2 separate regions of the Homo sapiens genome follow, and region 2 is linked to region 1. The links come from fine-mapping of genetic effects on gene expression. Tissue or cell type: whole blood. Region 1 holds a variant in brackets; the other region holds the start of a gene. All regions are shown on one strand. Distances are between the middles of the regions.

Region 1 (5,144 bases):
TTCGTCAGCCTCTGACTTCTGATGCAGCCACACTCCCCGGGCTGCCTCGGCCCACGGGTCAGGGTGGTGGTCAGGGCGGCCAGAGCAGGATAACCAGGACTGGGCACTGGGGGCAGCTTCTCCTGGGGGTGTGCCCTGGTGCGTCTGACCACCTCTGGTTGGGAGATGGGGACTTGGGGGTCTCCATTGTTGGCACCTGCCCAGCGGTGCTCCCCTCCCCACACCCCCCACCTGGTCCTAGATTGGCTCTGTCTCCACCTTGGACTCGCCGGGTCTTGGACCTTTGAACGTCTCTTTTTATTCTTAGCCCCCTGCCCTGTCACCATTGTCACTGCCACCTCCAGCTTTCTCCCCGGCTGTTCCTGGTGCTCTTTGTCCCTGCCCGCCTCCCGGGCCATCAGTCTGGCTTACTTTCTCTGACTTCCTTTGGGGTTCATCCCTTGCCCTGCCTGTCGCTCTCCCATCAGAACCCCTACCCCACCCATCTCCCTCTCCTCTCCCTCCATGTCTCTCGTCTTTCTCTTTTTCTCCTTTCACCCTCTGTGTTCCCTGTCTTGCCCTTCCCTCCCTGTCTCATGCCTTTCCTGCCTGTAACTTCCTTCTCCTTCCTCCCACCTTCCTCCCTCTGCCCTGCGCCTGGCCTGCCATCCTCTCTTCCTCTCTCCATCCCGCCTGTCTCTGGCATCCTGTCTGCCTCCTTCCAGCCCCTTTCTCTCCGGGCATTTCTCTGTCCTGGGCTGATAGGAGACCAGACAGTCAACCCTTAGCAGCCTCCATGCTGACTGTGGCCCCTGTCAGCCAAGGGGTGTCAGAAAGGCCCTGGCGGGCCCCTGTGTTTATGGCAACAGTCATTCAGTAGGGCAGCCGCGAGCGCTGCATGCCCCACTTCTATTAATCCCTCAGTTAGCGGGGCCTAACCCCAGACTTGACACTCATCAGCCAGTCAGCCAGGACACGCAGCGCCAGGGGTACAGCCAGGCAGCTGGCATCATCCCTCCAGCGGTGCCGCCAGTGCAGAGGAACCAGCCCTTTTGCTGCACTTTTGTCGGTCAGCAGGACCCAGTGCTCTGGCTATGCTGTCAGCTGGGGCTGTCCTCTGACTGGTACTGTCAGCTGGTGAGCAGGGCTGGCTTTTCAGCTGTACTGTCTGGCAGTTAGGGAGCAGGGCCGGCCTTCCGACTGTGCCGTCAGGGAGCAGGGCCAGCCTTCCGACTGTGCCATCAGGGAGCAGGGCCGGCCTTCTGACTGTGCTGCCAGTCCCTGGCTCTGCCATCGCTGGGGCCAACCCCTGACTTGTCAGGCAGCGAGCAGCTGAGACCCAGTGCCTGCTGGGAGTGGGGCGCTGAGAATCAATGAAACCACAGGCCTGCCTCTGAAGAGCTTTGAAGCTACCCCGTGGTTTTCTCAGCTGCTGCACCCAGCACCCTCTCCTTGTTTTTTGTTTTTTTGTTGTTTTTTTTTTTGAGACAGAGCCTCACTCTGTCACCCAGGCTGGAGTGCAGTGGCACGATCTCGGCTCACTGCAAGCTCCGCCTACCGGGTTCACGCCATTCTCCTGCCTCAGCCTCCCGAGTAGCTGGGACTACAGGCGCCCGCCTCCGCGGCCGGCTAATTTTTTATATTTTTAGTAGAGACGGGGTTTCACCGTGTTAGCCAGGATGGTCTCGATCTCCTGACCTCATGATCTGCCCACCTTGGCCTCCCAAAGTTCTGGGATTACAGGCGTGAGCCACCGTGCCCAGCCCACCCTCTCCTTATTTAAGTGAGTTTCCTGTTAGATGCTCTGCCTGGTGTCCAGTGGTGAGGCTGAAGGATGCAGCACAGATGGGCCCAGGATGTTGCTGGGGCAGTCAGTGTGCCAAGCTCCAGCCTGGGGGCGGGAGCCTGGTGCAGAACCCAGGGCCTCTGCCTGGTGCCTCTGTGAACACCTCCCCCGCCTCAGTTTTCCCCTCTCAGCAGTGAGAAGGACCTTGCCTCAGAAGCACAGCTGTCTTGCATCCGGCGCTCACTTGCCGGAGTCTCTGGGTTATGGCCTCGGCTTATGAGGAGCAGGTGTTGAGTAGGGGATCCAGGAGCGTCTGGCTTGTATTTGAATCCCTGTCTCACTGTTTAGCTGCTGCTCACCTCAGGAACCTCTTTTGACCCTGTGAGTTTTGGTTTCCTCATCTGGACAGTAGAAGTGATGATACTGCCCTCATGATATGACCATGAAAACTAAACTAGATGGTTTGGCAGGATTCTACCTTGTTGAATCCTCAAAGCCCTGAACACAGGGATAATTTGTCGCATTTTACAGAAGGGGTAACTGAGGCTCAGGAGGATGAGGTGACTTGCTAAAATCATGCTCTTTTGAAGGAAACATCTGGGAAAGTTTGCCTTGGATTTGCCCGAGGTGTGCTTTTATTGCATTTTAATCTCTGAAAATTGACATTCTCCTCACTCCCCACCTGGTGCAGCTGGCAGCTGGTGCCTCAGGGAGCTGATCCCTCCCTTTGCCAGCACCCCACTCCCCATGCTGGGCTGGGTGTCCACAGGAGTGGACGGGCCCAGGAATCATGGCTGGGAGGCCTGGGTTCCAGCCTTGCTTTAGCTACCAACTCACCGCGTGACCTTGGCCAAGTCCCTTGACTTCTCTGGGCCTCGGTTTTCCTCTCTGTAAAATGGGGATGGCCACACCCTCCTTCTGGGGGGATCAGAAGCTTAGCTGAGTTTAAAAGGAACATGACTGACATCAAAGGAGCCCGGTAAACCAATGGGATCCTGAGTTGATTTCCTTCCCTGTAACGAGTGGCAGGGCCTCCTTCTCCTCATGTGGTTTGGGGAGGAGGAACCACATACATTTGGGCTCACACGCACAGCACACAGTCAGTCCACACATGCACAAAACACACTCGTATGCACACATGCACACATACTTGACTCCACGTAAAAGCATGTACACACACACTCCTTCATGCATAAACACACACACACACGCGTGCACACATTCA[G/C]TTCCCGGGCATCACCTTCTCTCTTCTTGCCTTCTTGCCGTACAACTGAAAACCCTAAAACCCTCCGTGCCTACGGCTCCCGGGAGGGTGAGGGTCCAGGCAGCTGGGTTCAGAAGGATCCACCCCTGGACCCGCCCCACTGGACGAGAAGCCAGAGATGCCCCGGGCGGGGCTCATAGGACCGAGTGGTGGCTTCTCAGTTCCCCAGGCAGCCGTGGCCATTAGTGGAGCCGACTGGCTGGTCCCCTGGCCGTGAGCCGGCTTCTGAATGATTTATGCCGCCTTGAACTTGACTCCAGCGTGACAGGAGTGAGAAGAGCCGCTCCCGCTAGAGGAAAGCTGGAAACCGTACTGTGCTCACCACATAACCTCTGGGTGCTGGAAATGGAGTATTACTACTGCCCCAGCCTGCTGAAGCTCTTGCGCTACCTCTGGGTGAGTGGCGGGGGGCAGTGCAGGCTCCAGGACGGGGTCACGTCCTTTCCCTCTCCTCCTGCTTCCTGTCAACTTTGCTTTTTGGCTGTGTCTGGTTAGCAATGTCTCTGTTTTCTTTAAGAAATGGTGGAGGTTACAAGGAAGAGAGAATGTTGGGGAAAAAGGAAACGGGCTTGGTTTGGGAGGTAGCACAGGTTTGTAGGAAGAGCTGAGACTCCTGAACAGGAATGAAGATCCTGGATCCGATGTGGGCTTTCCTCCAGTCCTCAAGAAAACAGGAAGAACGAGAACCACTTCAGTGAGTTTTTCAGAAAGCAACATTTATTTGATTTAAAGGACTATTCTTTATTCTGAAATTACATCCCTCTTGCCTCTGTGTGTGTAAGAATGTCTGTCTTCTATGGGATGAAAATAATAGATTTTGCTTTCCTTTTCCTGAACCTACACAGTGATAGAAGAAGTTGGGACCCCTTCCCCACTAACACTCACACTGTGCTGTCTCCTCTGGATAACAGAGGAAAAAAACCAGAACATTTTCTGATGAAATGCCAAAGTCAGGGAAGCTGTGCAGAAGTGCTTTGTGAGGTATAAAATGCTTTCAGGTCTCACTTTGACTTCGCAACTGGTCTGTTTTCTGTGCCTGGGCAAGTTACTTCTCCTCTCTGGGTTTCTGTTTCCTCCTCTGTGAAATAAGGAGTGGGTGTAGGTGATTCTGGGTTGTGTGACATCCATCAGGGCTCTGGGAATAGAGGGACTTACCGAAGAATTGTCATGGGCTGGTCTCAGAGTTTTCCAGAATATTTGCCACTGGTTTCAGCACACCCAAAAGGGAAAGTCTTAGGAAATATTATCTTTCCCATTGCTGAGTGTTTGCAAATACTTCAGATGCCTTCTTGCCCAGAGAATTTTCCAGCGCTCCTAAAAATACAACTTTAGGAAACATTGCCTTTTAGCCGCCAGTCCCAGAGTGTCTCACCTCCCTCCTGAGCCCCCCAGAGCAGTGGGGAAACAGGAGATCCCCCCAGTCCATATTGTTCAATCATTGGCCTATGAACATTCTTATATAATAAATGTAAGGCAACATTGATTGATTGATTGATTGATGTTTTAATTACAAAAATAATGCATGTGCATGGTAAAAAGATATGGAAAATTCAGACAGGCACAAAGAAGAAAAGAAGTCTCCAATAATCGTATTTTTGAATTGTGTGGTTTGCAAGGTCTGGATAACCTTGATGTGCCTGGCTGCGTGTTGGGCTCTGGGCTCCATGCTGGAGATGCAGAGATGACTAAGATACAGTCCACGGTCCCCAGAACTTAGAGCTTGGCATAGGTGTTGAACTCATTGACAAATGGCTACGATCTCATGTTCATTCAGCACACACTTACCAGCAGTAGTTTGGAGCTAGCGCCAGATACTTGGAATATAGGAGCAAGACGGCATGGTCCCCTGACCGCATGGAACTTAGTCTGGTGAGAATTTGGACTTTGCTCAAGGAACTGAAACAAGGACCATGTATGTGTTAGGATGGGGGTGGTGCACAGTGCCTCAAGGGATATGGTCTCGTTGGGGTGCAGGGGCCAGGAGAGCCTCCCCAAGGAAGCTGAGTGCTGGAGGATGCCTAGGAGCTGGCAGTTGATGCTAGGGTAGGGGTCCAGGGAAGTGTGTGCCAGGCAGAGGGAACAGCATGTGCAAAGGGCTGGGGTGGATGTCAGAAA
Region 2 (5,144 bases), 120 kb before region 1:
ATCAGGACCTTCTGGAGGAGGGGACAAAAGACTGCGAAGAAAGGGTTCTGGGAAAATCCCTGGGAAGCACTGTGCTCTATTCTTAGAAAAAGAAAAGCCAGGGCTGGGAGTGGTGAGGTTGGGGGAGGGAGGGGTGTTGCCTCCGGAAACTGTACTACCTGACACCTCTTTGGTCAGGGTCTACCTCTGGGTATGTGCGAGCTGGCATCTCTCACCTAGGCGGGAAGACACAGGAATGCAGGGGGAACCAGCTAAGGTGGGGGCTGACCAGGAAGTCCTGCCCCTTCTGGGTCCAGGTTCAGGAGGACTCTGGGAGTTGTAGTTCAGCACCTCTGGAATCCCCTTAAAGCTTGACAGGGATAGAAGAGCTGACACCCGGTCTGGGCTGGGCATCTCTTGGGGCAGAGAGTAGGGTTGATGGTCAGGGCTGGGGACGTGTCTGGGTTTGAGTCTCCATGGGGGGTGGCAGGAGGAGGACTATCTTGTCCCCTCCCATCCTTATGTTCTGGAATGGAGAGGCGATGCCAAGGTGGAAGCCTGCATTGGCTGGGGAGCTGAGAAACATGGAACATTCCATTGAACAGAACCCCCAGCCTACGCATTCTGGTTCATGGAGATTTGCCCAGGAGAGACAGGAAGTTCCCATAAGGTTAGGGAGGAGGGGCAGCAGATGGCATGTCATCAGCTGTTGGTCATTCATGCACTCAGCATACATTCTTTGAGCACCTATTGTGTGCCAAGCCCTGTTCTAGGCACTGGGAATCGGAGGTGAAAGACAGACAGAAGTCCCTTCCTCCAGGAGGTCTAGAGAGAAGAGCAGACAATCAACGATTTTCCTTTGCTGGTATAACATACACGTCATGTAAAGGCCTGACTTACGTGGATTTTGAAGGATTTTAAGTTTCAACCCAGCCGTTCCTGGTCTCCTACTCACAGACTTCTCTCTGGAAGTGGTAGTTGTCTGTAAAAGCAACTGGGTTTGATCCTTTTGATGACTGTACTCAAGATACCCAGATGATAAGGAGAATGTCTTGAGACATGAGACCTCATGGGACCTCTGCCCCCCAATTCCTGGGTTCCAGCACTGTACACAAGTCAGTTGGGGGTTCTCGGGCTGCTGTTTGGTAAACAGGGTTTACCCTGCCTGGGTCTGATGGTGATGATCAGACCTTCAAAAGGGTTGCAGTGCAAACGGTGTGGAGAACAGGAGCTACCCTTGTTTCTTACACACACCCAACAATTTAAGAGCAAAATGAGGCAAGAAGTCTCCCCACCAATCCTCCTGAAGCCACACAATGTGATGTCTTTTTCTTTTTTTTTTTTTTGAGATGGAGTCTTGCTCTGTCGTCCAGGCTGGAGTGCAGTGGCGCGCTCTTGGCTCACTGCAATCTCCACCTCCCGGGTTCAAGCCATTCTCCTGCCTTAGCCTCCCGAGTAGCTGGGATCACAGGCATCCGCCACCACGCCCAGCTAATTTTTGTAATTTTTAGTAGTGACGAGGTTTCACCACGTTGGCCAGGCTGGTCTCAAACTCATGACCTCAGGTGATCCACCCGCCTCGGCCTCCCAAAATGCTGGGATTACAAGCCACCGTGCGCAGCCTGTGATGTCCTTTTCTTTCTCTTTTTTTATTGAGGTCTATCTTGCTTATAATAAAGGCACATTGATTTTAGGTCCTCCAGTTATTCATGCTCTGTACATTTCCCATAGGAGCACATGTCACAGATTCAATTTGATATACTCGTGAAATTATTTGTTTGAATATCTGTAAGCTGCACAACAGCCTGGATTTTGCCAGCTGCCCACCACTGGGTTCTCCAGCACCCAGCATGCAATAGGTGCTTAATAAAGATCTGCTGAATGAAATGAGTAACGGATAACAGAACAGGTATTTTCTCTTTCAGAGGCGACTTCCTACGATTCTCTCAACTTGTCCACAAGTTCCTGTACCCATTACCCCACAACTCACACCCACAACATAATGGCAGGAGGATGCGCACACAGTAGGCGCTCCAGCGAACTCTCAGGTGCAGTGCCCTTGCTTGGCGCGAGGAGGCGCCAGCACCGCGCACAGACCTTGCCCGCCCCCGGGCCGGCACCAGCAGCCCAGGCAAGTCAGTGGGCCCACATTTATGGAGCGCCTCCTGAAATCCTGGGTTGCATTAGGCTCTCGGGGTCGCCGGCTGGGCAGCGGGTCGGTGCCGGTGGCGGGGGATCCTGGCTGGTGACTGGGGAACATCCAGGGAACGCGGGAGGGTACCCGGAGCAAAGTTCCCAATTGGACAGAGCGGGGTCGGGCCTCGAGGGGCGGGAGCGCTTCCGGCAGGGGTGTCCAAGCGAGTCGTGACCTCTGACCCGCCGGAGAGGTCCCAGGCCCAGGCGCCACTGCGGACTCGGGTCCTGCCTGCTCTGCTCCCCTCCGCGCAGGCGCGGCCGGCGGCAGTTCCCATGGTGACGGGGGCGCGTCCCCGCTCGAGGCCCCGCCCCCAGCAGGCTAGGCTGCGCGGGGCTGCGGGCTCCCAGGGCAGGTGCCGCGGGCTGCGGGCAGGTGGCGGCGCGGCGCGGGCTGGCGGTGGCTCCACGGTAGGTTGCGCAGCGGCTGCGGGCAGTGGGGGCCGGCTGGCCGCCTCCTGTCCCCGGCCGACGAGGTAGCTGGGGGTGACGGCGGCTGGCGAGGGCCGCCAAGTTTCTGCCCGGCCGAGGCCCCGGGAGAAAAGTTGGCAAAGTTGGCCGGGGAAGAGGCGGGGAGCCGGAGGATTTCCCCAGACTCCGGGTCTGCAGGGAGGGAGGATCCCGGTTTGGGAGCCGGGGAATCCGTCTCCCGAGACTTGAGAGTGGATCCCGCGGGAAGATCCCGCACAGGGCAACCAATGGATCACGTGCCACCTGGTTGGCGACTTGGGAGTCGATCCCTGGAGGGGATCGGGCGCTGGAGGCCTGGGGTCCCACTGGATCCCCAGTCAGGGGTGACGGCGAAGGGTGATTCGAGACTGGGAGCGAGAGGATCAATCTCCTCCCATGCCAGCCTGAGCCTTGGGAATGGATTCAGAGAGATCCCGTGGCTAGGAGCTGAGGGATCGCTGGAGATCTGGGTTACTCAGCCTGGAGCTGCTAGGGTCTGGACATTTGTGCGGGTTGGAGGCCCCGGAGGTGGAAGTGGGAAGCAAGGGCGGCGAGCGAGACGGAACCCTGGTCGAGGGGAGCCCGGAGGACAGCGCGGTGGTTCGGGGGGCGTGAGAGGGGCGGCGCGCGGGGCCCCTCGGACGCGGAGGCTCCGGACACGTCCTCTCGGCCTGGCCTGCGCCCCCCCTCCGCTCGTCTTCCCAGGGCGGAGGCGCCCTGATGGGATTAAGCCTCAGTCCCCCTGTTACCAGGCAGGCCCGCGTGGTCCCCGCCCCGATGGCGGCGCGGCCCACCCGGGCTCACGGGTGGGGCCCTCGGGATGGGAAGCGGCTCGTTGACCCCCACCCGAGCCTGACCTTTTCACACCCTGCTGGCACAAACTCGCCTGGGAGTGGGGACGCCGCGCCTTAAAACCCTGCTGTTTGTCCAGTCCCGGAGCAGGCGTGTGACCTCCACCGCGCGACGCCTAGGTGGCTAGGGCTTCCTGCCTGCCGGGACTGAACTTTCTCTAGCCAGGAGCAGCCATTATCTTTTGGAAGGGAAAGGACTGTACCTGTTGCACAAAGAAAAACACTTTCTTTGCACCTTTTTTGTGACCTTGGGCAAAACACTTAACCTATCTGAATCCAGATGGGGACCCTCTGGGCAAAATGGGCTTGGCCTAGGATGGATCGGAATGAAGGGTATGAAACAGGTAGGGGCTCTATAAGTATCAGTGCCTCCCTCAGTCTATGGCCTCTCCTTTCCCGTGCCCCATCCCCTGTGCTTGCCTTACAGTATCTAAAGATTCCAGAAACCCTACTTGCTATCTTTTGAAACCGCAGGATTAGAGAGCTATTTAGCTTAACCTTTCTTCCAAATGGGTTAATTGCCCCTCTGATCCCCCCTTGCAGAGAGAAGCTCTGAGGTTTGGCTAATGAGTAACCAAGACATTTGGACAAAGCTTCTCCCTTGGTCTGGCTTTCCCTCTGCTAATCCATCAAGGTTCCTGGACAAACGTGTGCACCCCCAGACTCTGGCGCCTCCTTCCTTCCTGTTGCAGCCAGGGACAGTTCCCGAGGAATTTGTACAGACACAAGCCCAGATCTTGGTGGTTCTGGCAGGGGGATCCTTTTTAAAGGATTTGCATGCTTGACAAGGGTGCAATTACCCAAGAGAAGTGCAGAGTTTCAATGCAGTGTCTGGACATACATTTCAGCTGGGCACATGAACTGGCTGGCTCCATCAACCAGCGTGTATTGAGCACCTATGTCAGGAGCACTGTAGAAATGGTGTGGCCTAGGGCAACTCAGGATTTGTCCTCTTGGAGTTACTTTCCAGCTATGGAGCAGTCGGCTTGCCCTGCAGTCTAGTACTGATTCTTGATGTTGGGGATACAGTTCTCACCCTAGGTTCAGAGGCTGGAAGCTGCCCCTACCCCCACTGGAGGTCCTAGGGGCTGCTTTTTTTCGTTTGTTTTGTTTTGTTTTGTTTTATTTTGTTTTTTGAGATGGAGTCTCGCTCTGCAGCCCAGGCTAGAGTGCAATGGCGCGATCTCGGCTCACTGCGACCTCTGCCTCCCGGGTTCAAGCAATTCTCCGGCCTCAGCCTCCAGAGTGGCTGGGATTACAGATGCCCGCCACTCTGCCCGGCTAATTTTTGTATTTTTAGTAGAGATAGGGTTTCACCATGTTGGCCAGGCTGATCCCAAACTCCTAACCTTAGGTGATCCTCCTGCCTCCGCCTCCCAAAGTGCTAGGATTACAGGCATGAGCCACTGCGCCTGGCCGGGGCTGTTTTTTATTGAAGGCTGACCTTGGCAGGAGAATGAAGGAGCCAGTTGTCTGGCTCTGAGCATTTCTCCTCACCAGGCTACATCTCTGACCAACTCAGAAACAGAGCCTCACAGGGATATTTTATATGTGCATTCATTCATTTATTTATCATTTGTTCCTTCAACAAATATTTCAAGACACTGTGTCAAAGATGAGGCTAGCAGCCACATCCTTAAGGGGATACTTTATGCCCTGAAAGTCTTTGTG

The links. PIP is the estimated chance that this variant, and not a neighbour inherited with it, causes the effect.
Region 2: it holds the start of KIAA1671, and the variant in region 1 is fine-mapped to the expression of KIAA1671 in whole blood (TOPMed, PIP above 0.99).

Annotation. Positions count from the first base shown.
Region 1 is chr22:25,066,992-25,072,135 of GRCh38, forward strand. All of the region lies in intron 6 of KIAA1671, which reads left to right. Among named protein-coding and RNA genes, the nearest start is that of KIAA1671-AS1, 43 kb to the right of the region's middle. RefSeq lists enhancers at 1-87, 2,632-3,182. The variant G/C (reference allele first, on the strand shown) is at 2,991.
Region 2 is chr22:24,950,190-24,955,333 of GRCh38, forward strand. KIAA1671 reads left to right here and starts at 2,527. Exons shown (of 13, transcript NM_001145206.2): 1 at 2,527-2,583. RefSeq lists a silencer at 2,344-2,593.